Linked DNA regions of Homo sapiens. The protein of the gene in region 4 interacts with the protein of the main gene of each other region in a pairwise test. Each region holds a gene or a part of one and is shown on either strand. Other genes may lie near its edges.

What was found.
Region 1: the proteins of TMEM130 (region 4) and TSPAN2 interact in binary tests that used the Homo sapiens proteins (3 or more experiments, as listed by UniProt).
Region 2: the proteins of TMEM130 (region 4) and SLC2A5 interact in binary tests that used the Homo sapiens proteins (3 or more experiments, as listed by UniProt).
Region 3: the proteins of TMEM130 (region 4) and TMEM100 interact in binary tests that used the Homo sapiens proteins (3 or more experiments, as listed by UniProt).

Annotation. Positions count from the first base shown.
Region 1 is NC_000001.11:115,058,288-115,065,630, reverse strand, and holds part of TSPAN2 (tetraspanin-2), read left to right. Parts: intron 1-3,398; coding exon 3,399-3,496; intron 3,497-5,092; coding exon 5,093-5,167; intron 5,168-6,649; coding exon 6,650-6,748; intron 6,749-7,343. UniProt on the Homo sapiens protein: May play a role in signalling in oligodendrocytes in the early stages of their terminal differentiation into myelin-forming glia and may also function in stabilizing the mature sheath.
Region 2 is NC_000001.11:9,052,622-9,059,964, reverse strand, and holds part of SLC2A5 (solute carrier family 2, facilitated glucose transporter member 5), read left to right. Parts: intron 1-1,714; coding exon 1,715-1,813; intron 1,814-2,356; coding exon 2,357-2,517; intron 2,518-7,343. UniProt on the Homo sapiens protein: Functions as a fructose transporter that has only low activity with other monosaccharides. Can mediate the uptake of 2-deoxyglucose, but with low efficiency. Essential for fructose uptake in the small intestine.
Region 3 is NC_000017.11:55,719,865-55,727,091, forward strand, and holds the start of TMEM100 (transmembrane protein 100), read right to left. Parts: upstream 3,001-7,227; 5' UTR 2,755-3,000; exon of another isoform or gene 2,749-2,754; intron 1,272-2,748; 5' UTR 1,207-1,271; coding exon 802-1,206; 3' UTR 1-801. UniProt on the Homo sapiens protein: Plays a role during embryonic arterial endothelium differentiation and vascular morphogenesis through the ACVRL1 receptor-dependent signaling pathway upon stimulation by bone morphogenetic proteins, such as GDF2/BMP9 and BMP10.
Region 4 is NC_000007.14:98,859,794-98,867,136, forward strand, and holds part of TMEM130 (transmembrane protein 130 isoform b precursor), read right to left. Parts: intron 3,608-7,343; coding exon 3,302-3,607; intron 546-3,301; coding exon 386-545; intron 1-385.

The DNA.
Region 1 (7,343 bases), on a different chromosome or scaffold from region 4:
TATCAGTAAGATATTAATAAATAATTTTAAATACTTTTTAAATTTTTAAAAATGAAGGTGTCCCAGGGAAAGTACTTGTGGTAGCATGTCACAGAGATCACTGGCATCCCAAAGGCCAGCTATTCATGATGAAAATGTAATTTCAAAATGTTTTCTATTTTTCAAATCAAAGGCAATAGGACTCGGAAAGCATGAGGGCTTTGGGAAGTAGGTCGTATGTTTGTCACACCTGCTCCTGTGGGAAGGAGAAGGCTCTACAGTAACCATCTTGGAATTTAAAATGTGGCTGTAAATTAATTATTACATTCAGCAGCTATTTTTTGAGGGTCAGACCATAAGAAGGATAAAGTATCCTTGGAAGCCACAGGTGGCCTTATGGCATGCGGAGTATTAGAGCCAGATTTGGAACTGGATCCGGCACGCCCAGGGAACCTTTCCTCTTGTAGAATTTCTTCTGCTTTTCCCTTCAGCTTCAGCAAGCAATGTTCATTTGGAGCTGGGCTGAGTCACGGGCCCACACATACAAAACAGAGGCTGGCTGAGAAGTGGCCTCAAAGTTGAAGCTGCTAGGGCAGCTTCAGGTTGTTTTTGCCGTGAGCTCTGGGATTCTGATAGCCTAAGAATGAAATATTGTTCAAAAAAGCACACTTTCCTGAAAAGCTCATTATTTCAGAAGGATAAGGATTGTTGCCTGAGGGAGCAGACAGTTTCATTTACAGTGGGGAACAACTCTGGCCTCCTCAAACCTCTGTGCCCCTGTCCAGTGAGCCTCCTGCCTCCTCACGAGCCTCCCTCTTTCACATATTCCAGGGTGTCTCGGGGTGCGAAGCAACCATCCTCATGTGCTTGGCTTTGGAGAGCACAGCTATGTAGTTGCTTTGTGGATGTTTGCTGAGACCTGTTTCCAGCATATATCTCTAAGCAAAGATGGGTGATGACAGCCAGCAAGCCTGGAACTGATTTGATTTTCTCTGTCTTATCTACTAATCCAATGCACACTGACTAAGAATTCTGCCTTGTGCAGGGCATGTTCTAGAGAGGATGAATAAGGTTTGTCAACTTGAAATCTATAATGAGAGACTAATATGAGAACCTGCAAAAGCACAAAATGGAAAAGAGCAGGACACAGCCAGATCATGGTGAATTCCCAGGTGGCTGGAGCATAGGATGGATAAAGATTTTGGGGGAAACTGTTCTGTAGGCTGTGACTTCATGATAGATCTGCAAACGGCATCATGTAGCAATTGTGGCAGTAGCAATGAGAGGCAATGGGCATGTTCTGCAGCAAGGGGGTCCACCAGGAGACATTCCATGAAGGAACTGAATATGGTGTTGTTGCTGCCGCCCTGCATTCAGCTCGCTTCTGTGGGGTGGTCAAATAGAAGTGTGGGATGGGAATTGGGGCTGCAGGCCAGGGCATCCTGCCTACAGCCATCTTGACTCTCAGACCTCCATTTGTAAAACAGAAATAATAGTCCTTGCTTACCTAACCACGTTGTTTTGAGAAGCCAATAAGATGATGGAAGTGAGAGCTTTGAAAACATTGCAACACAGTGAATGACTTTTTTTTTTCTTTTTCAACTTTCATTTTAGAATCAGGGGGTACATGGGCAGGTTTGTTACAAAGGTACATTGAGTGATGCCGAGATTGGGGGTATGACTGAACCTGTCACTGAGGTAATGAATATAGTATCCAATAGTTAGTTTTTCAACACCTGTGCCCCTCTAGTAGTCCCCAGTATCTATCATTCCCATCTTTATGTCCATGTGTACCCAATATTTAGCTCCTACTTATAAGTGAGAACATGCGGTATTTGATGTTCTGTTCCTGTGATAGTTTGCTTAGGATAATGGCCTCCAGCTGCATTCATGTTGCTGCAAAGGGCATGATTTTGTTCTTTTTTATGGCTGCATAGTATTCCATGGTGTATATGTACCACATTTTCTTTATCCTATCTACCATTGATGGGCACCTGGGTTGATTCCATACCTTTGCCGTTGTGAATAGTGCTGCAGTGAACATGTACCCTTTTGACAGAATGACTTATTTTCCTTTAGGTATTTACCCAGCAATGGGATTGCCGGGTCGAGTGGTAGTTCAACTCAGTTGTTTGAGTCATCTCCAAACTGCCTTCTGCAGTGGCTGTACTGATTTACATTCGCAACATTGTATAAAGTGTCCCCTTTACTCCCAGCCTTGCCAACATCTGTTATTTTTGACTTTTTAACAAAAGCCATTCTGACTGGTATGAGATGGTATCTCATTGTGGTTTTGATTTGCATTTCTCTGATGATTAGAGATGACGAGCATTATTTCATGTTTGTTGCTCGCTTGCATGTCTTCTTTGGAGAATTGTCTGTTTATGTCTTTTGCCCACTTTTTAATGGAGTTATTTGCCTTTTGCTTGTTGATTTGTTTAAGTTCCTTACAGATTCTGGATATTAGACCTTTGGTGAAAGACATTTTTAAAACAATAAAGTGTTGAGGTAGTGGGGCCAACAACACTATTATTTTTAATATGATATCATTTCTCACATTACCACATCCATTCCCTCATGAAATTATTCTTTTAGAGAAAAGGGAAAGGGAGGAGGTGGTAGAGCTAGAACAGCAGGAAATAAATACCCACCTCAGGACTGCAGAGCAGCAAGGCCTCAGGGCCCTGAAAAGAACGCTGAGGCCAGGTCCGGGTGGGGCAGGAAGCAGAGCAGCCTCGCCTGTGGCTCCTACTAGGTCTGTAAACTGCCAGATCTGCCCGCAAACCACCATCAGCAACCCAGAGGCGCCCCAGGAAGCACCCTGAATGCCAGGCCCAGGGGTTCCCCACAGAGGCGGGGCACCAGCCCCCACCCTCCCTATTAATGGGAGTGGTTTCCAGGTGACTCATATGAGTAAAATGCAAAAAATGAAATAGAGACCATTAACATGATTCCAAGTAAGACAAGTGCCAAGTCCCATATTGTATTCTAACTTATCTCAGGATCAGAGAAGGAAATACAAAAAGGCTTGGCTTTAGTTCTCTCAGAACCAGAGCATTTCTGTCCTTTTCTTTCTCTGTAAGAACTGTACGTGGGGCTTGCCTAAGCAGTAAGTGAAATCCCCACCTGAATGATGGCTGCCTCCATCACTAGAGATGCAAGACAGAGTCGGAGTGTTGGGCAGGCTTTTGAGGCTCATGGCTATTTTTCTCCCGGCTCTGCCAAACACCAGCTCTATGACCTTAAGCAAATCGCTTTACCTTTTGGGGCCCAGTTCCTCCGTGTCAAACATGGCAGTAAGAATAGCACCTCCTTTTGGTACTATTAGAATGCTCTGCAGTGCCCAGAGTCTTAAGCCTAGTTGGTCGTGGAGGCACTCGGTTGGCTCTCAGTGGTCTCCTCTGACCTCTTCCCCACAGGGCTGTATGTTCTGGTTGGAGCCGGGGCCCTGATGATGGCCGTGGGGTTCTTCGGGTGCTGCGGAGCCATGCGGGAGTCGCAATGTGTGCTTGGATCAGTAAGTGGGGCGAGGGGGTAAATGGTGGGGTGGGGGTGAGGGAGCGGCCTGCATCTGAAGGGAGTCAGTGCCTCTGGCCCCTGGCTCCAGCTCCTCCGTGGACTCTCTGAGCCCTTGGCATGCACTTTTCCTCCCTCAGTCTTGGTTTCTCCATCTCTTATATATGAATAATACTAACTAGGGCCGGGTGCCATGACTCACGCCTGTAATCCCAGCACTTTGGGAGGCTGAGGCAGGAGGATCTCTGGAGCCCAGGAGTTTAAGACTAGCTTGGGCAACACAGGGAGACCTAGTCTCTACCGGGTGTGATGGCACACACCTGTGGTCCCAGCTACTCAGGAGGCTGAGGCAGGAGGATCACTTAAGACCAGGAGTTGGGAGGCTGCAGTGAGCCATGACTGTACCACTGCACTCCAACCTGGGCGACAGAGCAAAACCTTGTCTTGAAAAAAGAAAAAAGAAAAAAAATATTATCTTTGTTCCTGCCTTATATGGGAAGTGTGAAAAGAAATGACGTCATTGGTGTAAAGATGTTTTGGGAGTAAAAGTACTTAGTAATTGTAAGGGGTGACTATGATTGTTCTTTAAAAAAAAATATTTCACAGTGGGTGAGGCAGCTAAAAGGTTTCTATAGCCAGGGAAGTGCTGTTATCTACAAGGAAAACATTTATGTTTGAGATCAATAACTTAACCAAAATCCCTCTTGTGGCTTATTTTAACAAGCAACCTCTGTTTAAAACAAAAATCAAATAATTTCAATTAACTGCTATACATTCTATGTCAGTGTAGCCTGAGAGAAACAGAAAGGAAGAAGAGGGGCAGGAGGAGAGAAAGTGTTGATATTTCTCCACAGGGAGTCAGAAACAGCAGTTTTAATAGGCAGCCTCTCATCTCTCATTACTTATTGTGATATTTGGATTTTTAACTCTGGCCGTAGCCTCTGATCTCTTGCTATGTGAAATGTCTGACTTATTTCTTTGCCATTCATTCCTTCTCTTTCTCCTACTGTTGAGCACATTTCTGTCTTGTTTATCACTGAACTTAGTTTGATCAGAGCAAATCCATAGACCAGAACAGAAATCCATCCAGAAGGACACCCCTCACCTCATCTCCTCAAAGAAGCCTTTCCAGACCACAGAATCTCCAGTCACCCCCTTCCCCATGCCCAGGCCGCATCAGTGATGCTCCCTCTCCTGACCTTATTTTATATCTTTCTAGGTCTTTTGTGTTCGTCAAGTATTTACTAAGCACGTAGGTGCCAGGTGGTGTTCTAGGTGGTGGGATTTTTACATCACTACCTGAACTTATCTTATTCACTTTTTAACTTCTTTACACAGTTATCGTATATTCCTCTGTCCAATCCAAGGTCCGTGATAACAGAGACATTTGGATATTATCTTGTTCACCACTGAATAGTCAGCACCAAGGACAGTACCTGGTGCAGAATAAATGCCTAATAAACAATTGCTGAATGAATGAATGAATGAATGAACCACATGAAAGCGATTCAGCCATTACATAAGGAAACTAAGGTGCAAAATATATAAATTGAAAAGGTATTAAATTAATGAAATTAGTATTTTCTCTCCTCTACAGTTTTTTACCTGCCTCCTGGTGATATTTGCTGCTGAAGTAACCACTGGAGTATTTGCTTTTATAGGCAAGGGGGTAGTAAGTAAAATTACTTATAATGTTTTTCTATGATGGTTAAAAGTGTTAGAATATTGATACCCACAATAGTGTTAAGAAACCAAATAATCCCCATTATTATAGTTTAAACAGAACTTTTTAACTTAGAAGTGGTGTGCAGAACTGAGCATATATGTATATGAGTGTGCAGGCATATATACATGCTCACATTTTTCTGGGGAGATAGTTCATCTCTTCCATTAGACTTATGAAGTGGTCTATAATAAAACCAAAAAAAAAAGGATCTCTAATTTAAGATTCTTCCCCATTGTGAAATGGGGTAACAGTTAGAGTACAGACTTGAGAAAGAATCTAGATTCTCATCCCCTGTCAGACTGCCATTTGTCCTTAAGGATTGGCCTGGATGGGTCCATTTCATTCTCAAAGAGCAGAGCCTACACTGCTGTGGGCTAGTGAAGCCAGTTTATATTTGCTGCCCAACTCTAGGTGTCCAGAATAGGTTATCGGGGGGACACACAGAGGAAGTAGCCTTTCTTCCTCTGTAAAACACACTGTGGGATAGAAGAGAATGGAATGGAAAAGGAGGAAGAATGGAAACTTAAGTTTGGTGTATTTCACATTAACTCTTGTGTCATTAATATTATGTTTCTGAACTTATTTTAGACTATAAAACAGTAAACATGTAGAATAGTAAATGTCACCTCCTTTTGAATTTTTCTAAAGTAACTGGCTGTGTTCATAGGTTAGTTTAAATTCAGCTACATACAGAAGTAGAATGGAATCTTAGGACCTGTTGAGATATCTGTGGATTTGAAATCACAAGCTTTTATACTAGAAAAAGCATTCTCTAAGCTTTATATGATATCTGAATGTAGAAAGTTTTCCTTGGTGATGAATACCTTTTAAACCACGTCATAAAAAGATTTGAATGCTTTTAACCAATGGGGTAACAGGAATGTATAAGTCCGGATCCTAGCTATGCATCCAAATCATCTGGATGGAGCCCAGGAATCTGGGGCCCAGTTGATGCTGAAGCCCAGTTGGGCTTGGGAACTGTCAGAAATCTTTCTAGTCCATGAAAACTGTTCTGGTTAGTCTGTCCTTCCATCCTCAAAAGCATCTTAGAAACTCCAGAAACTATAATCTTCTCCATATGTTGCTGAATTATCCTAAAATACCTATGGAAAGGCAGTATTTTTTTTTATTTCTACAGGTTTTGTGGGGAACAGGTGGTGTTTGGTTACATGAGTAAGTTCTCTAGTGGGGATTTCTGAGATTTTGGTGCACCCATCACCCGAGCAGTGTACACTGTACCCAATGTGCAGTCTTTTATCCCTCACCTCACTCCTACCCTTTCCCCTGAGTCCCCAAAGTCCATTGTATCATTCTTATGAGAAAGGCAGTGTTTTTCAAAGGTGTGGAAGAGGAGATTTTCCTTGATGAAAGGAGAATGTTTGAAACTTCCCACCCAGAAGTCCTTCATTTTTCCTTGTATTTCTTCAGGCTATCCGACATGTTCAGACCATGTATGAAGAGGCTTACAATGATTACCTTAAAGACAGGGGAAAAGGCAATGGGACACTCATCACCTTCCACTCAACAGTGAGTAACTTCACTTCTTCCTTAAAATCACAGCTTCTAAAGATTATGTGTGAGCCAGGTTCTCACCAATCACCAGGATTAAAAATAAAAATAAATTCAGTAAAGCCAAGTAGCACCACCTATTTTAGCCCTTTTGAGGGCCACAGTTTGCATTATGTGTGGAACCCTAGAAGGGAAAGATGTCTATCACACAGAGTTCACAAGAGAGACAGAAGAGCATGAACCCAAAAGACACATGCCCCAAAGAGACAAAAGAGCACAAACAAGGTTACAGAGAAAGGAGCCCAGATAAATAGCAGGCTTTGTCAGAGGGTAGCATTGTGGTGTAACAGAAACAAGTGTGACCTGTAAGTCAGAAAAGCTAATTTCTAGCTGCAGCTCTACCATTCAACAGCCTTGTGACCTTGAGCAAGTTACTTGGCCTCCCTGATACCCACGCAGCTCCCTCATTTGTAGAATGAAGGGTCACAGGAGATGGCTACACTCCCTTCTGGAACATTCAGTGGGACTGTGCTGTCCGTGGAGTGCTCAGAGCTACATGCAGTTAATCACAGAAGGCTTACAGAGGAGATGGGCCAGGCCAGAGTTATTCTGA
Region 2 (7,343 bases), on a different chromosome or scaffold from region 4:
AGGGCTCCTTGCAGGTGCTGCTCTTCAGAGGTTCACTCCACCCCATCTGGGGCCCCATGACAAGGCAGGAATGATCATTGTTTCTCTCCCTTTCTGGCTCCTCACTTACCTCTCTCAAGACATCCTCTTTAGGCCGGGCACAGTGGCTCATGCCTACAATCCCAGCACTTTGGGAGGCTGAGGCAGGAGGATCGCTTGAGCCCAGGAGTTTGAGACCAGCTTGGACAATATAATGAGACCCCTGTCTCTATAAAAATATATTTTTTAATTAGCCAGGCATGATGGCATGCACCTGTAGTCTCAGCTACTCGGGAGGCTGAGGTGGGAGGATCACTTGAGCCCAGGAGGTTGAGGTCACAGTGAGCTATAATAGCACCACAGCACTCCAGCCAGGGCAAGAAATGTCTCAGAAAAAAAAAAAAAAAAAAGATTCTCTGTAGATTTAGATACCGTGGGATAGTGCTTGTCTTGTCACTGGAGGGCCAAGCATGAACCTGTGTTACCTGTGAAAGGGGGCTCTCTGGCCAGGCGTGGTGGCTCACGCCTGTAATCCCAGTACTTTGGGAGGCCAAGGCAGGCAGATCACGAGGTCAGGAGATTGAGACCATCCTGGCTAACACAGTGAAACCCCGTCTCTACTAAAAAATACAAAAAATTAGCCAGGCGTGGTGGCGGGTGCCTGTAGTCCCAGCTATTTGGGAGGCTAAGGCAGGAGAATGGCGTGAACCCAGGAGGCGGAGCTTGCAGTGAGCCGAGATTGCGCCACTGCACTCCAGCCTGGGTGACAGAGCAAGACTCTGTGTCAAAAAAAAAAAAAAAAAAAAAAAAGAAAGAAAGGCGGCTGTCCATCAGAGTAGATGGAAGAAGGTCCTTTGATGGCAAGTCAGAGAGCAGCGTCCCAAGCTCTCTCCAACAGCAGATTCACCTCTGCAGCTAGACATGGTCGTAATTAATCCTGGCAAACACTCTGGTAGGGAGTGTGATTGTCCTCATTTCAGAGATGAAGAAACTGAAGATCCTAGAAATTAAGCTGAAAAGTGGCAACAGGTAGATTCAAAACTGAGGCCTGTAGATTTTAAGCCCGCAGCTCTTTCCATGTCTGTCTCCTGCTCTTCATTACTAATGAATTTCCTCTTGTCATTAAAGATTGTCTGAAAGGAAATTTTCAGTGGCCAAAATAGCTAAAATTTTCTCTTTTTCTCTTTGATTTTCTGGGAGTTTATGTTTGAGATGGTGCAAGAGCACATTTGCTGCAGTTGGCAAATGCCCCACGTGGCAGGAATGTCACAGGAGCAATTCAAACAGCTGCAGTAGCTGCAGTGTTAGAGAAGTAGGTTTCAGCTTCTCTCTGATCCAGTGGTTCTCAAATGGAGCACTTCCCCACCAGGGGACACTTAACAATGTTGGAAGACATTTGGGTTGTCGCAGCTGGGGAGAGGGGTGCTACTGGCACCATGTTCACAGGATGCTGTAAACATCCTGCTGTGCTCAGGACAGCCCCCATAACAAAGAATTATCAGACCCCAAGTGTCAAAAGTGCCATGGTTGAGAAAGCCTGTAACCCAAGGTGGGTTGAGGGTAGGTTTCAAGGAATGGAGTAGTCTCAAGACTATGGATCTTCAGATTCTGTTACATCTTTCTACGAAACCGAAGTAAAGCGGGAGGGCCCTGGAACCCTGGGGCTGCTTCCTGACCTAAGCTGTGATCTCTGCAGAGGCTGACGCTTGTGCTTGCCCTGGCAACCCTGATAGCTGCCTTTGGGTCATCCTTCCAGTATGGGTACAACGTGGCTGCTGTCAACTCCCCAGCACTGGTAGGTCACTGTGGTGAGCAAGATGTGGGGAGGACGTTTGGAGCAGCCCATTGCCTGGGTGGGACTGGCCAGCGTGGGGCTGTTCACGCAGTGGGTCCTGAAGCAAAGGGAGAGGGAAACACCCTCCGGACACAGCACAGACCCGAGGGAACTCGCAGACACAGGTCTCTTGGGATGGGCCAGGTCTGGATGGACACACAGTGGGCCGGGCTCTAGGAGGGGGCTCAGATCTTCTGTGGCCTTGCTGTTTAGAGGGAATCCGGGGGGGCCAGGGGTCTCCCAGCTGATTGGAAAATTGGAGTCATCCCTTTCTGGCTGAGAAACACCCAGGGTGGTTTGCTGCTGAGAGGCTTCCCAGCCCTCCCGGTGGGTGCCCACCCTTCTCACTGCTCCTGAAGCTCTGTCCTGCCTCCCATCACCCCCCGGTTAATAAGGTTGGTCTCTGTGTGCCCAGGTTATTTCATTGGGTGTCCTAACAGCTAATGTTCTTCTTGCAAAACCGGATCAAATTATTTTGGTGTTCTGTTTTGCTTTGTCTCCTAGCTCATGCAACAATTTTACAATGAGACTTACTATGGTAGGACCGGTGAATTCATGGAAGACTTCCCCTTGACGTTGCTGTGGTCTGTAACCGTGTCCATGTTTCCATTTGGAGGGTTTATCGGATCCCTCCTGGTCGGCCCCTTGGTGAATAAATTTGGCAGGTAAGGGAAGGTGAATTTTTAATTCCCTGAAACTCATAGACCCCCATCAGAGCTAAAATACAGGCCTACAACTGAAATCCTTACCATGAGACTAAGATAATAACCACTGTGGTCATTTTTCTTTTTTCTTTCTTTTTTTTTTTTTTTTTTTTTTTAATTTTTGAGATGGAGTCTTGCTCTGTCAGCCAGGCTGGAATGCAGTGGCGCGATCTTGGCTCACCGCAACCTCCGCCTCCCAGGTTCAAGCGATTCTCCTGCCTCAGCCTCCTGATCCTGGGATCACAGATGTATACCACCATACCCAGCTAATGTATTTCTAGTAGAGACGGAGTTTCACCATGTTGGTCAAGCTGGTCTCAAACTCCTGACCTCAGGTGACCCACCCGCCTCAGCCCCCCAGAGTGCTGGGATTACAGGCGTGAGCCACTGCGCCTGGCCGGTCATTTTTATTTTCTAATGGGGTCAGAAAAGAAGATCAGACATTGACAGTGTTTGGGGACCTAGGCAGGGTCTCAGGGGTTAGAAGCAGGGGTGGCCAGGGATCTACAGGCCCTCGGGCAGACCCGGAAGGAGCCGTGTGTGCTTGTGGAGACCCAGGACTTGCTTCTGCTCATACTGCCCTTTTGCCCCACAGTGTCATCTAGGACATCTCTCTTGTGACACCAGCCTCGTGAACAAAGGGGTCAGGGCTGTATCTTTGCCCCTATTTCTAGAAACATTAGAAATGCCATATTTTATTTCAAAAAAGTGTCCTTAAGATGTCACGCTCCCCCGTATAAATTCCATGGACATTATGGAAGACCTAGTTAGAAAGAGAATTTTAGAGGTCCCCTTGTCCAACCCGTCTAGGGATGAGGAGCACGTGGGGCTGAGTGAGGTCACAGATCTAGTGAGCCCAGAGTAACCCAGACTCTGACTCCTCCTCCAGTATTTCAAGAAAAGAATCTGAGAATAAAAACACACAGCTGGGCGCAGTGGCTCACGTCTGTAATCCCAACACTTTGGGTGGCAGAGGCGGGCGGATCACCTGAGGTCAGGAGTTGGAGACCAGCCTGGCCAACATGGTGAAACTCCGTCTCTACTAAAAATACAAAAATTAGCCGGGCATGGTGGTGGGTGCCTGTAACCCCCCTACTCGGGAGGCTGAGGCCGGAGAATTGCTTGAGCCTGGGAAGCGGAGGTTGCCGTGAGCTAAGATCGCACCATCGCACTCCAGCCTGGGCAACAAGAGCGAAACTCCGTCTCAAAAAACAAACAAACAAAAAACACCGCTGCAGCTTTGGGATCTAACATCCTCTTGAGAGATTAGTGTTGAACCCACAGTTTTCCCTGTGGGCCCTCATGGAGCAGAACATCCCTCCAGTCAGAATCAGACCTGCCGGACACTTCTTGAGTTAAGAGCACGCCGCTTGGCCCACAGATGGAGCTGAAGGTTGCTAATTGAGCTGTCTACTTAGGAGTCTGATAAACACTATTTGGCTATTTGCCGTTTTCTTAAGTATTTGTGGGTGTTATTTATTTCTTTATTTTTTGAGGTAGAGTCTTGCTCTGACGCCCAGGCTGGAGTGCAGTGGTGTGAAATTGGCTCACTGCAACCTCCACCTCCTGGGTTCAAGCCATTCTCCTGCCTCAGCTTCCCAAGTAGCTGGGATTACAGGTGTCTGCCACCACGCGCAGCTAATCTTTGTATTTTTAGTAGAGACAGGGTTTCACCATATTGGCCAGGCTGGTCTCAAACTCCTGGCGTCAAGTGATCCACCCACCTCGGCCTCCCCAAGTGCTGAGATGACAGAGGTGAAACACTGCATGTGGCCAGTGTTATTTAAATAGCAACTAACTTTTATTAATGAGTTCCTATGTGCCAGGCACTGTCCTGACTGTGTTTAGAGGTACTATTACAATCCTCACTTTATTTTTATTTATTTATTTTTGAGATGGAGTCTCGCCCTGTCACCCAGGCTGGAGTGCAATGGTGTGATCTCAGCACACTGCAACCTCTGCCTCCCGGGTTCAAACGATTCTCCTGCCTCGGCCTCCCAAGTAGCTGGGATTACAGGCGCATGCCACCACACCCAGCTAATTTTTTGTATCTTTATTAGAGACGGAGTTTCACCATGTTGGCCAGGCTGGTCTCAAATTCCTGACCTTGTGATCCACCCGCCTTGGCCTCCCAAAGTGCTGAGATTACAGGTGTGAGCCACCGCACCCGGCTAATCCCCACTCCATTTTAAAGATGGGGAAATGGTGCACAGAGAGACACTGTAACTTACCCAAGATCACACAGCTGGGAGGTGGCCAGGACTCCAACCCAGGATGTTTCACTTCTGAGCATGAGCAAGTAATGTCTACACTCTACTTTTGTTACTTAGGGAAAATATCTTCTCAATCTGTTGCTTTATTTTTTTAATCATACATATAGTACCTTTTTTATGCAAAATTTTAAAGTCTTCAAGTGGTCAAATTTATAGATTTTGCTTCTCAACTGAGGACACTTACAAAGCAAACACTATAAATATATATGTGTGAGACAGGGTCTCACTCTGTCACCTAGGTGGGAGTGCAGTGGCATGATCACAGCTCATTGCAGCCTTGAACTCCTGGGCTTAAGGGATCCTTCTGCCTCAGCCTGCTAAATAGCTGGAACTATAGGTGTGTGCCATGGTGCTCAGCTCATTTTTTAGTTTTTGTAGAGACAGGGTCTCACTAGGTTTCTCTGGCTGGTCTCAAACTTCTGGGCTCAAGCAATCCTCCCACCTTGGCCTCCCAAAGTGCTGGGATTACAGGCACGAACCGCTACGCCTAGCCTCTTCTATATTTTTAAAATTTATTTCACAATTTTGTTCTTCCAGATAGATCTGGTGTTTTATTTTGTATATATTGAGTGATGAGAGAAAACTAATTTTATTTTATTTTTCCAAGTGGAAAGTCAGTTGCTTTCAAATTTATCTTAGTTATTCATGCTCCTTTACTCTTCCATTTAAAATTTTAAGTCAGCTTCTCAAAATCCCGGAAGAAAGATTCTGACTGGCATTGCTCTGAATTTATAAATTAACCTGAGGAAAACTGACATCTCTACAATGTTGACCTTGCCCACTCATGAGCAAACTAGAGCTTTCCATTGTCTTCAGGTCTTCTTACATGTCCTCCAATAAAGTTTCATCGTAAAGGACCAAGGATTTAGTTTTCTTTATCCTGGGAGTCACTGTGGTTCCTTGTCTGAAGTTTCATGTCTTTGTCATCAGTTCTGAGACTTTTTCAGCCAATATCTCTACAAATATTGCCCCTCCCCGATTTTCTCCATGAAGTTCCTCCGTGTCTTTGAATCTCTTATATTTCCCATCTTCTTACCTCTCTCGGGTGCTTTCTAGGTAATTTCTGCAGGTCTACCTTCCTATTCATTAATTCTCTCTTCGGATGTAATAAACCTGCTACGTTTTTAATGATTATATTTTTCATTTCAATAAGTTCTATTTATTCGTTTTTAAAATCTACTTTCTATCATTGTTTTAGATAACTTTTATAGTTTTTTGTTCTTTCCTATAGTACTATTTTTATTTTATTTTTTTATTTTTTTGAGACAGAGTCTTGCTCTGTCACCCAGGCTGGAGTGCAATGGCGCAATCTTGGCTCACTGCAACCTCTGCCTCCCGGGTTCAAGTGATTATACTGCCTCAGCCTCCCAAATAGCTGAGATTACAGGCACCTGCCACCATGTCCAGCCAATTTTAGTATTTTTAGTAGAGATGAGGTTTCACCATGTTGGCCAGGCTGGTCTTGAACTCCTGACCTCAAGTGATCTGCCTGCCTTGGCCTCCCAAAGTGCTGGAATTACAGGCATAAGCCACTGTGCCCTGCCTATTTAAAAAATATATATATAAATATATATAATATATATAAATATATAATATATATTAATATATAAATATATAGATAAAATATATAATATATATTATATATAAATATATAATATATATAAATATATATAATATATATAAATATATATAATATATAAATATATAATATATATAAATATATATAATATATAAATATATAATATATATAAATATATATAATATATAAATATATAATATATATAAATATATATAGTATATAAATATATAATATATAAATACAATATATAAATATATAATATAAATATACAATATATAAATATATAATATAAATATATAATATATAAATATAATATATAAATATATAATATAAATATATAATATATAAATATAATATATAAATATATAATATATAAATATATAAAATATATAAATATATAAAATATATATTAACATATAAATATATGTAATATAAATATATAATATATATTATATATAAATATATATTATATATTAATATATAAATATATAATATATATTATATATTAATATATAATAGAGTAAGACCCTATCTCAAAAAATATATTTTAAAAAATATTTTTAAAACATATATATATATATATTTTTTTTTGAAATATGGTCTTACTCTGTCGCCCAGGCTGGAGTGCAGTGGCACGATTGTGGCTCACTGCAGACTCCACCTCCTGTGCTCAAGTGATCCTCCTCTCTAGTAGCTGAGACTACAGGGATGGGGTCTTGCTATGTTGCTCAGTCTGGTCTTGAACTCCTGGCCTCAAGCCATCCTCCCACCTTGGCCTCTGAAAGTGCTGAGATTACTGGCAAGAGCCACCATGTCCTGCCATTAAAAATAGACTTTATTAAAGAGCAGTTTTAGGCTCACATAATTGAGAAGAGGCTATAGAGACTTCCCATGTACCTCTCCTCCAATACATGCATAGTCTCCCCCTTTATCAA
Region 3 (7,227 bases), on a different chromosome or scaffold from region 4:
TTTGGAACTGCAATAGAAATAACTATAGCAGAAACAACCATTTAAGAAGTTTTAGCAGCAATAAGTATTTATTATTCTGAATGAAATGTACAGTTGACTTTTATATAAAAATCATCAAAAGTGCTATATTGGATTATTTTACTATTAATTTAACCCCCAACAGCATCTATTAGCTATAACTTTAATGGGTTTTTCTTTACTTCTGATACATCATTACAACTGGCTAACACTGTCCAATGTTAAAATATAAAAAATATTACTTTTCAAGATAAAGTACCACCAGTGATGAGTTATTAAAAGTATAAAATGAAAACAGACGCCAGTGAATCAATGTATTGAAAAAAATTATCACAGAATTTCATAGACATATGCGAAACCCAAGGTAATTTAGATCCTTGGCAGAACATTTTTATGATACATCTTAAGACTGTAGGTTATTTCTTTTGGAGGCAAATGTCTAGTGTGCCAGGCCTATCTTGATTTTTCTCATCTTTTCTTGGCTACTTTACAGGGTGAACCAAATACTGTCTAATGCTGTGCACTCCCATGACCCCCAAAGTGTTTCATGTAAATAGAAAGCTGATTTTTCAGTCTCAGAAGTAGCCCTTAGGGTTAAGTTTGTCGTTAAAGAAGACATGAGTCATTCCTCACAAAGGAGAAGCCCCTCCACCCTCCCACCCCCATTCTTCCAGTCTGCTCCAACGCCAAGTCTGTTCTCTCCCACCATGGTTCTGGGTGAATTGGGTGACAAAGTCAGAGCACGTTTTCCAGGCCCAATGGCCCATTTGGTCGTATTCAGTCTCAAGCAAACAAGCTTCTCTGATTTGCCACGAGAGCTGTTTGACTCTCCCGTCTCTTGGCTTTCTTGCTCCTTTGTCTCACTTTCCAGCACAAGGCACTGGAGGCTAGTAAAAAAAGTCCAGATGACAGAACAACCAGGCCAAAGATGGAGATAATAGACCCATGGGAATTGAAGCTGTAAGCCACCGCGGTGACCACGATGCCGGCGATGAAGACAACCACAGCAAAGGGGATGATGCAGCGGTAGCAGGAGAGCTCGGTACCCCCTGTAGCAGCCATCAACTGAATCTCACTGACCAGAGGGACTGTGGTGATCACAACTTCACTCTTGGGGCTCTTCTCCATCGTCGCTGCCATGTGAGCCTTTGGGGCTCCCAGGATCTCCTTGATGGGCTCTTCAGTCATTTTTACAACAGTGCTTCTAAGCTGGGTTTACAGACTAGATCTGGACAGTCTCACCAGGGTGAAAGCTGTGAAGATAACAGGAGATGTCAGCTACATGTATCAGAATGTACACCCTGTAAGCAGAAATGAAAAGCTGGGGAGGCACCTCCTTTCTAGGAGGCACAGATCCATGTGAAAAGCAACTTTACTCTTTTTTTGAATTGGTTGCATTCTCTTTGCATTTAGGCAAAAAATAAGATGAAGCAGATGCATATGAAGGGAAGACAGAAAAAGCAGGAAGCACTTACAGTGTTTAATATACCCTGGCGGTCTACAAAAGTTTTACAAGCTTTTCTGCTTTGTCTATTGCTTCTCCTTCCTCTGAATACACAGAAATGCCTGAATCCTAATCCAAAGATGGTCTCATTCAAGAGGAGAATACATTACAAACAATATTTCGTACCATTAATCCCAGAACTTACAGCAACTCAGACTCCGCCAATCTTGCTGGGCATAACATGCATTCTTTGCAAACTATCACCCATTGGCTGCCCACAAAATCAATGTCAAGGCAAGTGGCCAGCAACAAATGATGTTCTTCTCCATTGAATGACAGCCAACAAATCTTTATTGTGTTACTATTAAACACAGTGCAACCTGCTCCCTGGGATCTTTTTATTACCCACTTTAGGTGGACAGTTCAGCAAAAAATTCATTGAAAATGAGGTGGGGATTTGTGGTCTGAAGTGTAACAATATCTTCCAATCTGCTATAAAAGAGAAAAAATAAGAAAAAAAAATTCAACCCCTTCATAGGATATAATTTTGTGCTTTCTCTTGGCAAAATAAAATCAATTATTTGAGTAATTAGCTGTCAATTCACAAATTTTCTATTAAGCTCAACACAAAATTTCGATATTATGTATACTACAACATGCAGAAACAAATAAGCATGCTAGGTTTTCAGGAAACTTTCACAACCTTCATTTTCCTCCATGCCTTTGTGTATAAAACTTGCTGCAATGACCCTTTCTAAGTATTTCGTACCTGAACATTTCAGGACAAAGCTTGAGACTTTTGATCAAAAGTATCTGGTTGAAATGCTGTCTATGAGAAATCAGTGAAAACTTGTCTGCTGCTCAGACATGGTTGAGTCACTGTCTTCCATTCTCAAAAAGCTGTCTAGCTGCTACACAGTTGAGCAGTTGTAGTTACCGAACAAGTTTAAAGAAAGATACTTGAGACCATTTCAATGAGATTCATACTTTAAATATATTAAGCATCCACTGAAAACAAATTCAACTCCAAATCAAACCTCACTGGTTCTTCCCTGCTCTGGAAAGTCAAAATATCACTCCCTGAGCAATGAAACTAAATCTTAGAGCTGCCTACTCACATGTCATTTTTAATCACCAAACTAATTAATCACTGTTGTCCAATGACACCCTAACTTCTGGTGAGGCCAGTTAAAAGATATTTGAGATTATGTCTGAAAAAAATAACTTCACCCCAAAGCTGAGATTGAGCTAACCTGAAAATCAAGATCTGTCCCCAAATTACTTACACTCACCTCGGAGAGAGGCAATCCATTACCAGAGTAACCACTTGACTTGGAAGACAAGAAACAGCAACGCCTGAGCCTCTTCGTCCAACTTCTGGGAAAGAGCCTCTAACAGCAAGGCTGTCAATAAAACAATAGGTTAGGGATCTCTTCTGGGGAAAGGAAAAGATGTAAAAATACTTTACTATAGGGTCTGCTCTGGTTTGGGATCCTGGAGTTCCTGCTTCTTTCAGGCTACCTCTGTTCCTAAATGACGCTTGTCTTTCCCTCCCTCTCTCTTTTTATTCCCTCCCCCTCGGGTTTGCCCCTCCCTAACATTTTTTTTTTTCCTTCGTTCTTTTCCTTGCCAGCAGATTCTGAGTTTTGGCTTCCCCCAGCTTTGCTCAGTGACATGATGAGTCCGAATCATTTCTACAGATTCCCCAGAGACAGGAGCCAGCTTTTACTTTTTCTCTTGCAGCATTTACTAAGCGGACTGCTTTGTGAATTTGAATGACTCATTTTTTCCCCCGCCGACCTCCAGATCTTCCTCCCGTCCATCAGGCATTTTTATAAGAAAATCCCAGAGTCAGCGTTGCAGACCCGGCTGAGGGGACAGAGCCGAGGGGACAGATACTCTAGGGTGGCAGAAACAGCTGTGAAGTCATCAGGCAGCTGAATTCAGTCTCTAAGCCAGCAAAAATCCATGTTCCTAGGTTTTCCATTATTCTTTATATGTGCGTGATAGTCATCTGAAGCTTAAAACCCCACTTGTTGAGTGTTAATTCATTTAGGAATGAGGGTGGGAGGCACAAATGTTTGTGGTTAAGGGGGAAAGCCAGTTATATTGATTTAAACATGATTGTTTACTGCTTTTGCAAGGAGGTAACTTTAGCAGCACCAAGATTATCATCATCATGATAATTGCTACCATTTATAGAGCACCTACTGTGGACATGGCACAATATTAAGAAATGTCACATATTAATGTTAATTCTCACTAGTTCATAAATGAGGAAACAGGCTCAGAGAGGTTAAGTAATTTAACAAAGATCACCCAGTAACAGAGACACCCTTGGTTTGAACCCTAATCTTTAATGGATATATATATCATTTGGGGAGATTGTTAAATTTAGATTCTGATTCAGTAAGTCTGTAACAAGCTCCCTACCTATGTTGAGACCTCTGTTCCTTGGCCCACTTTAAGGATCAAGGTATTTTAAACATTCAAACATATACAACTTGACACATCATACTTAAACAATAAAGTTAAACATCTATTTCCCACCCCATAAACCTGTAAGTGACTTTATAGGTTTATGCTTTCTTACAGACAAACTGTGAAATTTTTAAAACCTTGAAACATATAAAGCCCAAGATTGTCTTTTTGAGGAGAAAAGATAATACTGGGAGCTCATCCTACACTCTGTAGTTAAAAGTTTACATCCTCCATTTTTTCATCTGCACAAGTGTTAATAACCTCTTCTAATTAATACTGTGAACCACAAATCCAAATTAACTCTTGGAAGAGATTTGTTTTCCATCTTTCTCTCAAATTGTTAGATTTCTCTAATAGCTGGCAAAGGGCTTGGATGTTCTCAAACATCTCGCCTCTCCTCTACCACAGCACACTCTCTCCAGCCTTGCCTTGTAGCAATACCCTGATGACTTGTCACAAAAAGAGAGGGACCAGAAGTTGTTTATTCTGGAATGAAAGCCAGAGAGAGGGTTATGTCCTTATAAAAAATAAAGTTGAAAAGTCCCTGAGGTTGGGGGAGTCATGGCAAGTACCTGGAGGCCTTGGTCACCATGATCCTCACACTTTAAAAATGTCAGACCTAAAGAGACAGCTTTCATATCTGAGGAGTACCGTCACTTGGTGTTGAGGGTCAGGAATACTTAGAACCAGGGCATTTCAGAACTTGCCAAAGTTGCCCCCGGAAGATGGTAAGATGGGGGCCGCTGGCTACGTACAATGGAGGTTCTTGAGAAGCTCCTTAACAGAGCTGTCTTCTCACCTGCAAACTCTGGCCCTTGAGGGCAATTCCCCTCTATTTTCTAGTACCACTTTGCCTGCAAGATAGCCCAATAACTGCACTGAAGCTCTGAATATCACCTTATTCTGTTGAAAAGCATGCTTTCCTGTTACCAAAGCTAAAGGTGCAAACATTGAACGTCTAGAGAGAGGACAATGGCAGCTTTTTTCATAGTAAGCCCTTGACTGAGTCTATAATGAGGCGCAGTGAGTGTGTCTGTGTCCTAGGAGCACAAATCTGTCATCACTTCCAATACCAAAGCTTTCTTCAACCTTGTCAGGCTCAGGTGCCTCATTCACACCAATGCTCCTCCACAGGGTGTGTGCACCTGCCTTGATACACAGGTACACATCTCTAGACTCTGAGTAGACAACCAATGATTTGTATTTTAAATTCAAAGAGGTAGAAAGTTTTGGTATAAAGCAGACATTGTATCAGAAGAATAGAAGCCTGTCATCCTAACCACTGACACATGCAGCTTTAACTGACTTTACCTCTTCAAATTGAAATTCAAAGAGAATTCCTAGTGATCTATGCCTGTTGTTTCTGAATGTTTATTCCTCCTTCCACTCTGTGTCTACAAAGTATTAAACACCCCTGGGCATCCTTTGGGGACACCTGCCCCCAAATGCAAAATTTCATCCACAATGCAACCAGCCTTATTTCTGCGAGCCCTCTATTTTCACAAAGAAGAGGAAATCTCTCTAGTTCTTTCTAAAGCACATGGCTTTAGGAGACTCCTTTAAGTTTGGAGAACTTTTCTCAAAGCCTCCAATGCATGAATTATATCTATGCCCCTAACCCCCATAGACATTCAACATTTCCTTCCCAGATCTTTCAAAAAGCAAAGCAAAGATCCTTACCTTTCCCAGCCAGAGTTAGACTGAGACAGCTGCCTGCCCTGCCAAGAGCAACCCAGACAGGGGGATGCAAATCACCACATTAGGGACCGTAAACAAAGTACTCAGCAAGGCTTAAACACAATTAAGGGACCGGAGACAATTTGGCAAGAGGAAATCCCTTAAATGCTGCTGGATTTTACTCTGTTGTCCTCCATGAAAATGTAACCCATATATATGTGTGTGTGTGTGTGTGTGTGTGTGTGTGTGTGTGTGTGTGTGTGTGTATACAGACAGAGACAGAGAGAAAGGGCATCAAGTTTGAGAAGAATATCTTCCTTCACTTTTCTCTTTTTATATCTTTATTCAGGCACTAATTTGCAAGGTTTTTCCTATCCAAAGCCCCCATTCTGATGCTCTCCCTCTGTGAATCAGAACCTGCAGAAAAGAATTCGTAATCTTTGCTCTACATTTCTAAGGGAGTATGGGGTTGGAAAGTGTGTATGTAGGGGAATGGGACCATAAACCATCCTCTTTCCCAATAACATGCAGGTAATAAAAGGAGTACAAGGAAGATTAGGATTAGTGGTGAGAATGGCATTTGGTGCCTGAGTGGACCCTCTCCCTAATGTCAGAGGAGTGGTCCTATTGGTGCTCTTCATTGGAGGATGTCAAGGCACCATAGAAATTATGTTATACTGAAAAATCACACCTCCGAGGTGACCTTCCACCAAAGGCATTGTAAACGGCAGAGCTGGGAACATTTGCTGTTCCAGAGAGAATGCCCCAAATTGCAAAAATCTCATTTTTTTTTCTTTAGAAACAAAATGAAAGACAAAGTTACTTAGGGGAGAGGGGTCTGGGAGTGGAGGAGGGCAGGGAGCATGGTGTGTACTATGACAAAGAGGTCATTTTGCCCATTTCCCTAAAGTGGAAGCCAAAGATTCAGGCTCTAAGGTTGCAAAAGGGGATGTTTTGATTTTCCTATTGAGTTTGTGCTGTTGAAGACCTGGCAATTTCTCCTCTGGGAACACATGAAGTTCGCATTTTGTGAAGCATGCCCCCATGTGCATTTGATTACTCGCCTGTCTTTATTTCCAATTTGCTTTTGCTTGGTGTGTTTGAGCTGGCTAATTTCCAGCAGCCTTGAGGATGCCAGTTCCTCTTGGCCTTCTGTCCAATCACCACATGCCTTTGATCTCAGTCATCACCCAGTCCAATTGGATGCAGGGAGATTTGGGAAGCTGGCCAGGTTTTCTCCTCTCTAATGCTTCTTTTAAGGGTGTGCCTGCATTTATGTTCTGAAATCATGGACATTTTGGAAAGTGATCTGTGCTTCTGTGTTCATTTTGGATAGCAGGTCATGTTATTATTCCTCCTTTTCTTTTTTTCTCCTCCAAAACACTTTTCTTTGAGGTCTAGGACATTAAATAGAGAGATCTGATAGTACCAAGAGGAACAATGAATGTGCCTTAGATATAAATCTGTATTTTACTAATTGGTGGTCAATTTCTAGGTATGGGAATCTCATAAGATCCATTTGAATATAGAAAGGGAAACATACATCTTTTAGATTCACATTACAATCCCCATTCTCTTACCCCATTTTGTTCTGAGTAACTATGAAA
Region 4 (7,343 bases):
TAATCCTAGCACTTTGGGAGGCCAAGACAGGCACATCACTTGAGGCCAGGAGTTTGAGACTAGCCTGGCCAACATGGTGAAACCCCATCTCTACTAAAAAAAATAAAAATAAAAAAAATACAAAAATTAGCCAGGTGTGGTGGCGCAAGCCTGCAGTTCCAGTTACTGGGGAGGCTGAGGCAGGAGAATCACTTGAACCCAGGAGGAAGAGGTTGCAGTGAGCCAAGATGGTACTACTGCACTCCAGCCTGGATGACAGAACAAGACTGCATCTCAAAAAAAAAAAAAAAATTAAAGGTGAAGAGATTCGGAGTACCCTGCACAGTGCGCGGGACAGTGGGGCACCAGTGACAGCTGTAGGGCCTGCAGAGGGGTAAGGACCTACCCGTCCCCGAAGTCCCAGCTGTAGAGAAACAAGGCGGTCTTGAGGAAGTTGCTCGGGTCGTGGAGGAGGAAGGAGACTTTCAGGACGGTCTTAGTGAGATAGGAGCTGGGCCAGGGTAGGGAAGTGTTCTGGGTGACAACAAGGTCCCCCACGAGGAACTCTGGGAGAGAGAGAGACACGGGAGGGTGAGTCTTGGAGATTCAGGGATCAGGAAACCAGGTAGAGACTTCATGGGCAGCTGTCAAAGCCACCACTTCCCTGCCCGGACCTTCTGGCTGTCAGAGCTAGGCAGGGAGAGGGGACACCCCCCTACAACTCCCCAAAGACCCCTGAACACAGAGGCATCTGCACCCTCCCCCTGCTGCATGAACACTGCTGAACACCGGAGGACTCTGTCACATTCACTGTTTTCTCTCCTGTCCCCTCTCACAAGGACCCTGAACTTTCTGGCACAAAAGATGCCCAAGGTCAGAAGGAAATGCATGGCTGGGTGCGGTGGCTCACACCTGTAATCCCAGCACTTTGGGAGGCCGAGGTTGGTGGATCACAAGGTCAAGAGTTCAAGACCAGCCTGGCCAAGATGGTGAAACCCCGTCACTACTAAAAACACAAAAATTAGCCAGGTGTGGTGGCACACACCTGTAGTCACAGCTATTTGGGAGGCTGAGGGAGGAGAATCGCTTGAACCTGGGAGGCGGAGGTTGCAGTGAGCCAAGATCGCGCCACTGCACTCCAGCCTGGGCGACAGAGCAAGACTCTGTCTCAAAAAAAAAAAAAAAAAAAAAAAGAAGAAGGAAATGCATAAGCTTTGAAAGGAACTTTTGAGAAATATTTCAGAATGTCAGGTGACCCTAGAAAAATTAGCAGTTCCAATGACCAGGCACGGTGGCTCACACCTATAATCCCAACACTTTGGGAGGCCAACACGGGCAGATCACGAGGTCAGGAGATCAAGACCAACCTGACTAACACAGTGAAACCCTGTCTCTATTAAAAATACAAAAACAAAATTAGCCAGGCATGGTAGCGGGCACCTGTAGTCCCAGCTACTTGGGAGGCTGAGGCGGGAGAATGGTGTGAATCCGGGAGGCAGAGCTTGCAGTGAGTCGAGATCGCGCCACTGCACTCCAGCCTGGGTGACAGAGCAAGACTCCGTCTCAAAAAGAAAAAAGAAAAATTAGCAGTTCCACTGATCACAGCTTCACACGTTGGGACCACTGTCCTATGTCTACTTCTCTAAAAAGAAAAAAAATTGGTGGGGCACGGTGGCTCACACCTGTAATCCCAGCACTTTGGGAGACTGAGGTGGGCAGATCACTTGAGGCCAGGAGTTTGAGACCAGCCTGGCCAACATAGCGAAACCCTGTCTCTACTAAAAATACAAAAATTAGCTGGGTGTGGTGGCCAGCACCTGTAGTCCCAGCTACTTGGGAGGCGAAGGCACGAGAATCGCTTGAACTGGGAGGTGGAGGTTGCAGTGAGCCAAGATCACAGCACCACTCCAGCCTGGGCAACAGAAGGAGACTCTGACTCAAAAATAGTAATAATAAATTAATTAAAATTAGTAAAAGTGGAAAGAAAAAGGCATGCTCAATAGAGCTCATTTGGAAAATGTTCAAACATAAAATAAGAAGAAAAGAAGCTAACTAACATTCACCTCAACCACTGTTGCCATTTTGAAGTATGACAAAGTATTTGCTTCAGTGTTTAATATACACATACATTAAATACAGATTATTGGGTTAGACAATTCTGTGCTTTGCTTTTTTAATATGTAATTTTACATGCATGTGTATTTACCCATGGCCTTACAAACTCATTGTAAGGGTCACTGTTAATAGTGGTATAAATGATTTTATTATATTTAGCCAATCTCCTCATGGTTGCTCACTTAGCTTGTTTATCTCTTCTTTTGCTATTATAAACACTATTGCAATGAACACCTTAATGCAAAAGGCATGACCCAAATGCAGGTTTATTTCCTGAAGATAAATTCATTATTAGACTGGAAAGTCTAAAGGGGCAAAGGGGCATCTTCTCTTGGAATGAGAGAGAGAGAGAGAGACAAAGAGACATAGAGACAGAGATAAAGAGACAGAGACAAAGAGACAGAGACAGAAAGAGACAAAGAGACAGAGAACAGAAAGAGCAAGATAGAAAGGGAAAACAGAGAGAGAAGGGACAGAGAGAGACAGAAAGAGACAGACAGAGATAGAACAGAGAGAAGGACAGAGAGAGACAGAAAAGAAAGGGGAGAAAGAGGGGAGAAAGAACCAGTGAATGACTGGCCCCAAGACTACAATAATTTCTTTTTTTTTTTTTTTTTTTTTTTTTTTTTGAGATGCAGTCTCACCCTGTCCCCGAGGCTGGAGTGCAGTGGCACGTTCTCGGCTCACTGCAACCTCTGCCCCCCAGGTTCAAGCGATTCTCCTGCTTCAGCCTCTTATACAGCTGGGATTATAGGTGCCCACCACCATGCCCCCACTAATTTTTGTATTTTTAGTGGAGACGGGGTTTTGTCATGCTGGCCAGATGGCTCTCAAACTCCTGATCTCAGGCGATCCACCTGCCTCGGCCTCCCGAAGTGCTGGGATTACAAGCGTGAGCCACCGCGCCCAGCTGAGACTACAATAATTTCTAACCAACAGTACCTATTGACCAGTCGCTCTCCACAGGGTTGTATTAATGTATACCCTCAGCAGCAATAGGCGTCCCTTTTAGCACAATACCTCCTGGGGGCAATCACTGCCATTTTCAGATCCTTTCTAACTCGACTGACCCGGGGAAGGAACCTACGGGCCTAATCCCCCAGAACCTACGGGCCTAATCTGCATTGATCTGATTCCTAGCGAAGCTTGATGTTTTTCTCTGCACCAAGGGTTTGAAGGCAAACTAGCAAATGGGAGCGACCCTCACCTGTGATGGGGAGGACCACAAAGCCCCTGGCCACAGGCTGGCACATCCAGCAGTCAGCGGCAGTGACCCAGACAGAGACCGGGAATTCCCCGGGCACGTGGCCGACCACACGGATGGTGGAGCTGAGACCCTTCTCCATCTTGCCAGTAAGCACCAGCGGGGTGTGGATCCAGTGGAAGCGGTAGAGGTGGGCGTCAGCGGGCAGGGCCAGGCTGCCGTTGTCCTTGGCCACCAGGCTGGCCGAGATGGTCACCACCGCTCCCGTGGTGGCAGGGCTATCGGTGGTGAGATTGAGTTCATACAGGCCTAGGAGCCCAGAAACAAAGACTGTGTTTCAGAATGGTGTGTGGCAAGGAGCCCCACAGCCACCTCTGGGCTGGCATCAACTATTCTATTTCCCAGGTGGAGAAACTGAGGCTCAGGCAGCTCAAGTGACTTGCCCAAGGGTCACTCAGCCAATTCGACATCAAACCTGGGTCCCACTGACTCCAAATCACAGTCTTTTCAGTCTTATTTCCCCTTCCTTCCTTCCCTCCCTCCCTCCCTCCTTCTTCCTTCCCTCCTTCCTCCTTCCCTCCTTCCTTCCTCCTTCCCTGCTTCTCTTTCTTTTCTTCCTTCCTTTCTTTTTCTTTCCTTTCCTTCCTTTCTCTTTTCTTTTCTCTCTCCTTCCTTCCTTCCTCTCTCCCTCCCTCCTCTCTTTTTTCTTTCTTTCTCTTCTTTCTTTTTTTCTCCCTTCCTTCCTTCCTTTTCTTTCTTCTTCCTTCTTTCTTTCTTCCTTTCTTCCTCTCTCTCTCTCTCTCACTCTCTCTCTCTCCCTTTCGTTCTCTGGATCTCACTCTGTAACCCAGACTGGAGTACAATCATCACAGTTCGCTGCAGCCTCCACCTTCTAGGATCAAGAGATCTTCCTGCCTCAGCCTCCCAAATAACTGAAACTATAGGCACACACCACCACACCCAGCTAATTTTTTATTTTTTGTAGAGATGGGGGTCTATGTTGCCCAGGCTGCCCAAATTATATTTTGTTTTTCCTGCCAGCCGGGCAGGGCCTTGGTTAGTGGCTACTCTTCTGGACAGGCCACACAGAGAACATTTCTACCATTCCCCAGAATTCTTTTGGTTTTGTTTTGAGACAAGATCTCCCTCTGTCATCCAGGCTGGGGTGTAGTGGCATGATCATAGCTCACTGCAGCCTCAAACTCCTGGGCTCAAGTGATCCTCCCACCTCAGCCTGCCAAGTAGCTGTGACTTGTAGGTCCAAGTCACCACGCTTGGCTGATTTTTTTCTTTTTTTTTTTTTTTTGTAGAGACAGGATCTCACTATGTTGCCCAGCCTGGTCTCGAACTCCTGGCTTCAACCACTCCTCCTGCCTTAGCCTCCCAAAGTGCTGGGATTACAGGCATGAGCCAGCGTCCTCAACCACATTGTCCAAAGATCTACTGGACAGTGCTGGTCTCATGCCTCTGGATTCCTCCTCTCCTCACTCCTCTCTCTCTGTCAGGGTTAAAGGATCCAGCTGTTGGCCAGGCATCATGGCTCATGCCTGTAACCCCAGCACTTTGGGAGGCCGAGGTAAGCGGATTACTTGAAGTCAGGAGTTCGAGACCAGCCTGGCCAACATGGTGAAACCCTGTCTCCACTAAAAATACAAAAAATTAGCTGGGTGTGGTGGTGCATGACTGTAATCCCAGCTACTCAGGAGGCTGAGGCAGGGGAATCGCTGGAACCCAAGAGGCAGAGATTGCAATGAGCCGACATCGAGCCACTGCATTCCAGCCTGGGCAACAAGAGTGAGACTCCGTCTCAAAAACAAAAGAAAACAAACAATAAAAACACTTCCCTGTACCTCTCACCCCCTCAGCTCTTTCCCGACAGCTGAGTCCACTGTTGTCACAACTCCATGTGGAAATGAAAGTTTCTTTGCCTTTCCTGCTATGCTTCAAACTCGTTTAGAGCAGGGGTCATTTCCATCATCCCTGTGACCAGCACAACGCTTGGCACATAGCAGGTGTTTGGTACTGCTGTTGCCAAGGGGCACCCGGAGAGCAGGTGCAGCAGAGGGACCAGCCCACCTGGCCCTGCCCCAGGAGACTGTTCACCCAGGTGGCACTGACTGAGTCCCTTCCATGGACCCCATCCCTACCGTGTTGGGAGGATCCAGAAATACAGAACAAGCCCCTCCCTGGAGGGACCTCACAGGAGACCTGCTGGGCTTTCAACAAGAAAGGCTGGCCAGGCGTGGTGGCTCACACCTGTAATTCCAGCACTTTGGGAGGCCGAGGCGGGCGGATCACCTGAGGTCAGGAGTTCCAGATCAGCCTGACCAACATGGAGAAACCCCCGTTTCTACTAAAAATACAAAATTAACCAGGTGTGGTGGCATGCGCCTGTAATCACAGCTACTCGGGAGACTGAGGCAGGAGAATTGCTTGAACCCGGAAGGCAGAGGTTGCAGTGAGCCAAGATTGCGCCACTGCACTCCAGCCTGGACGACAAGAGCGAAACTGTCTCAAAAAAATTTAAAAAAAGAAAGGCCAACTATTTGACCTTGTGGTTTTCAACTATTTCAACTATTTTACCTTGTTTTTCTTTCACAAATTTTCATTAGATCCCTTACCCTCTCTCTGCCACTCTATTATGAGGGGGGAGGGGGATGAAAACTGTTGGATAATATTCAACCCCGTTAGCTGCCCACGTCCCACCTGTCCCTCAACAAGTCTCCAATCTGGGTCCTTTTATGGTTCCCAAAATGTGGCAGAAAGGTGGGTGCTGGCCTTCTGGCGATGGGGATGTGGGGACAGTAGATGCACGACCGAGTGGGCACAAGGTCCCCCCACAAGTCCCCCCAGGAACCTGTCAGCTCCAGGTCCATTTTGGGAAATCACTCCTGGAAGAAATAGCAGCCTGGCCTCCTGGGCTCTAAAATTGCATCTCGGTCAGGCACGGTGGCTCATGCCTGTAATTCCAGCACTTTGGGAGGCCGAGGTGGGTGGATCACCTGAGGTCAGGCGTTTGAGACCGGCCTGGCCAACATGGCGAAACCCCGTCTCTACTAACAATACAAAATTAGCCGGGTGTGGTGGCGAACGCCTGTAATCTCAGCTACTCGGGAGGCTGAGGCCGGAGAATTACTTGAACCTGGGAGATGGTGGTTGCCGTGAGCCGAGATTGCGCCACTGCACTCCAGCCTGGGCAAAAAGAGCGAAATTCCATCTCAAATAAATAAATACATAAATCAAATAAAATCATATCTCCCCAAAGCCAGCACCAACAGGGTGGAAAACCCCTCTAGATGAGGCAACATTTTAAAGTAAAAATGCTGCCCATCCCGTGTTCCCTGGGGGCTGGGGGTTGTGGCACGATGACTGACCCTGATACATCCCCATGTCCCTGCCTCGTCCTCCCCTCCCTTAGCAGGTACATGGTCCCCAGACATCTGACGGATGCGTGGGCCACCCTCGTGTGGTTTCCAGGGCAGGGCCAGCCCGGGGAGTAGAAGCAGGAATCGAGGGGGCAAGGGAAGCCCCTTCTAGTGCCCAGGCAACTCTGAGATTATTTTTTTCAGACGCATCTCATTCACTTCAAAGCAACATCACCTGTCCCTGTGGGGGACTCCAGCTCCGACCTTTCCTCAGGCCCACCTCACACGTTCGCTGCTTTGGCCCACATCACGTATTTCCTTTTTTTTCAGAGCCATTTCTTAAATTATAAAGGCATTTGAGGCCGGGCCCAGTCAGCTCACACCTGTAATCACAGCGCTTTGAAGCCAGAGGGTCACTTGAGCCCAGGAGTTTTAGATCAGCCTGAACAACACAGCGACACCCATTCTCTACAAAAAAAAAAATTTAAAAATTAGCCAGGCATGGTAGCGTGCACCTGTTGCCCCAGCTACTTGGAAGGCTGAGGCAGGAGGATCTCTTGAGCCCAGGGGTTTGAAGTTGCAGTGAGCTATGATGGCGCCCCTGCCCTTCAGCCTGGGCAACAAAGTGAGAGACCCTTTCTACAAAAATAAATAAATAAAAATCAAGTCATTTGAGTCAA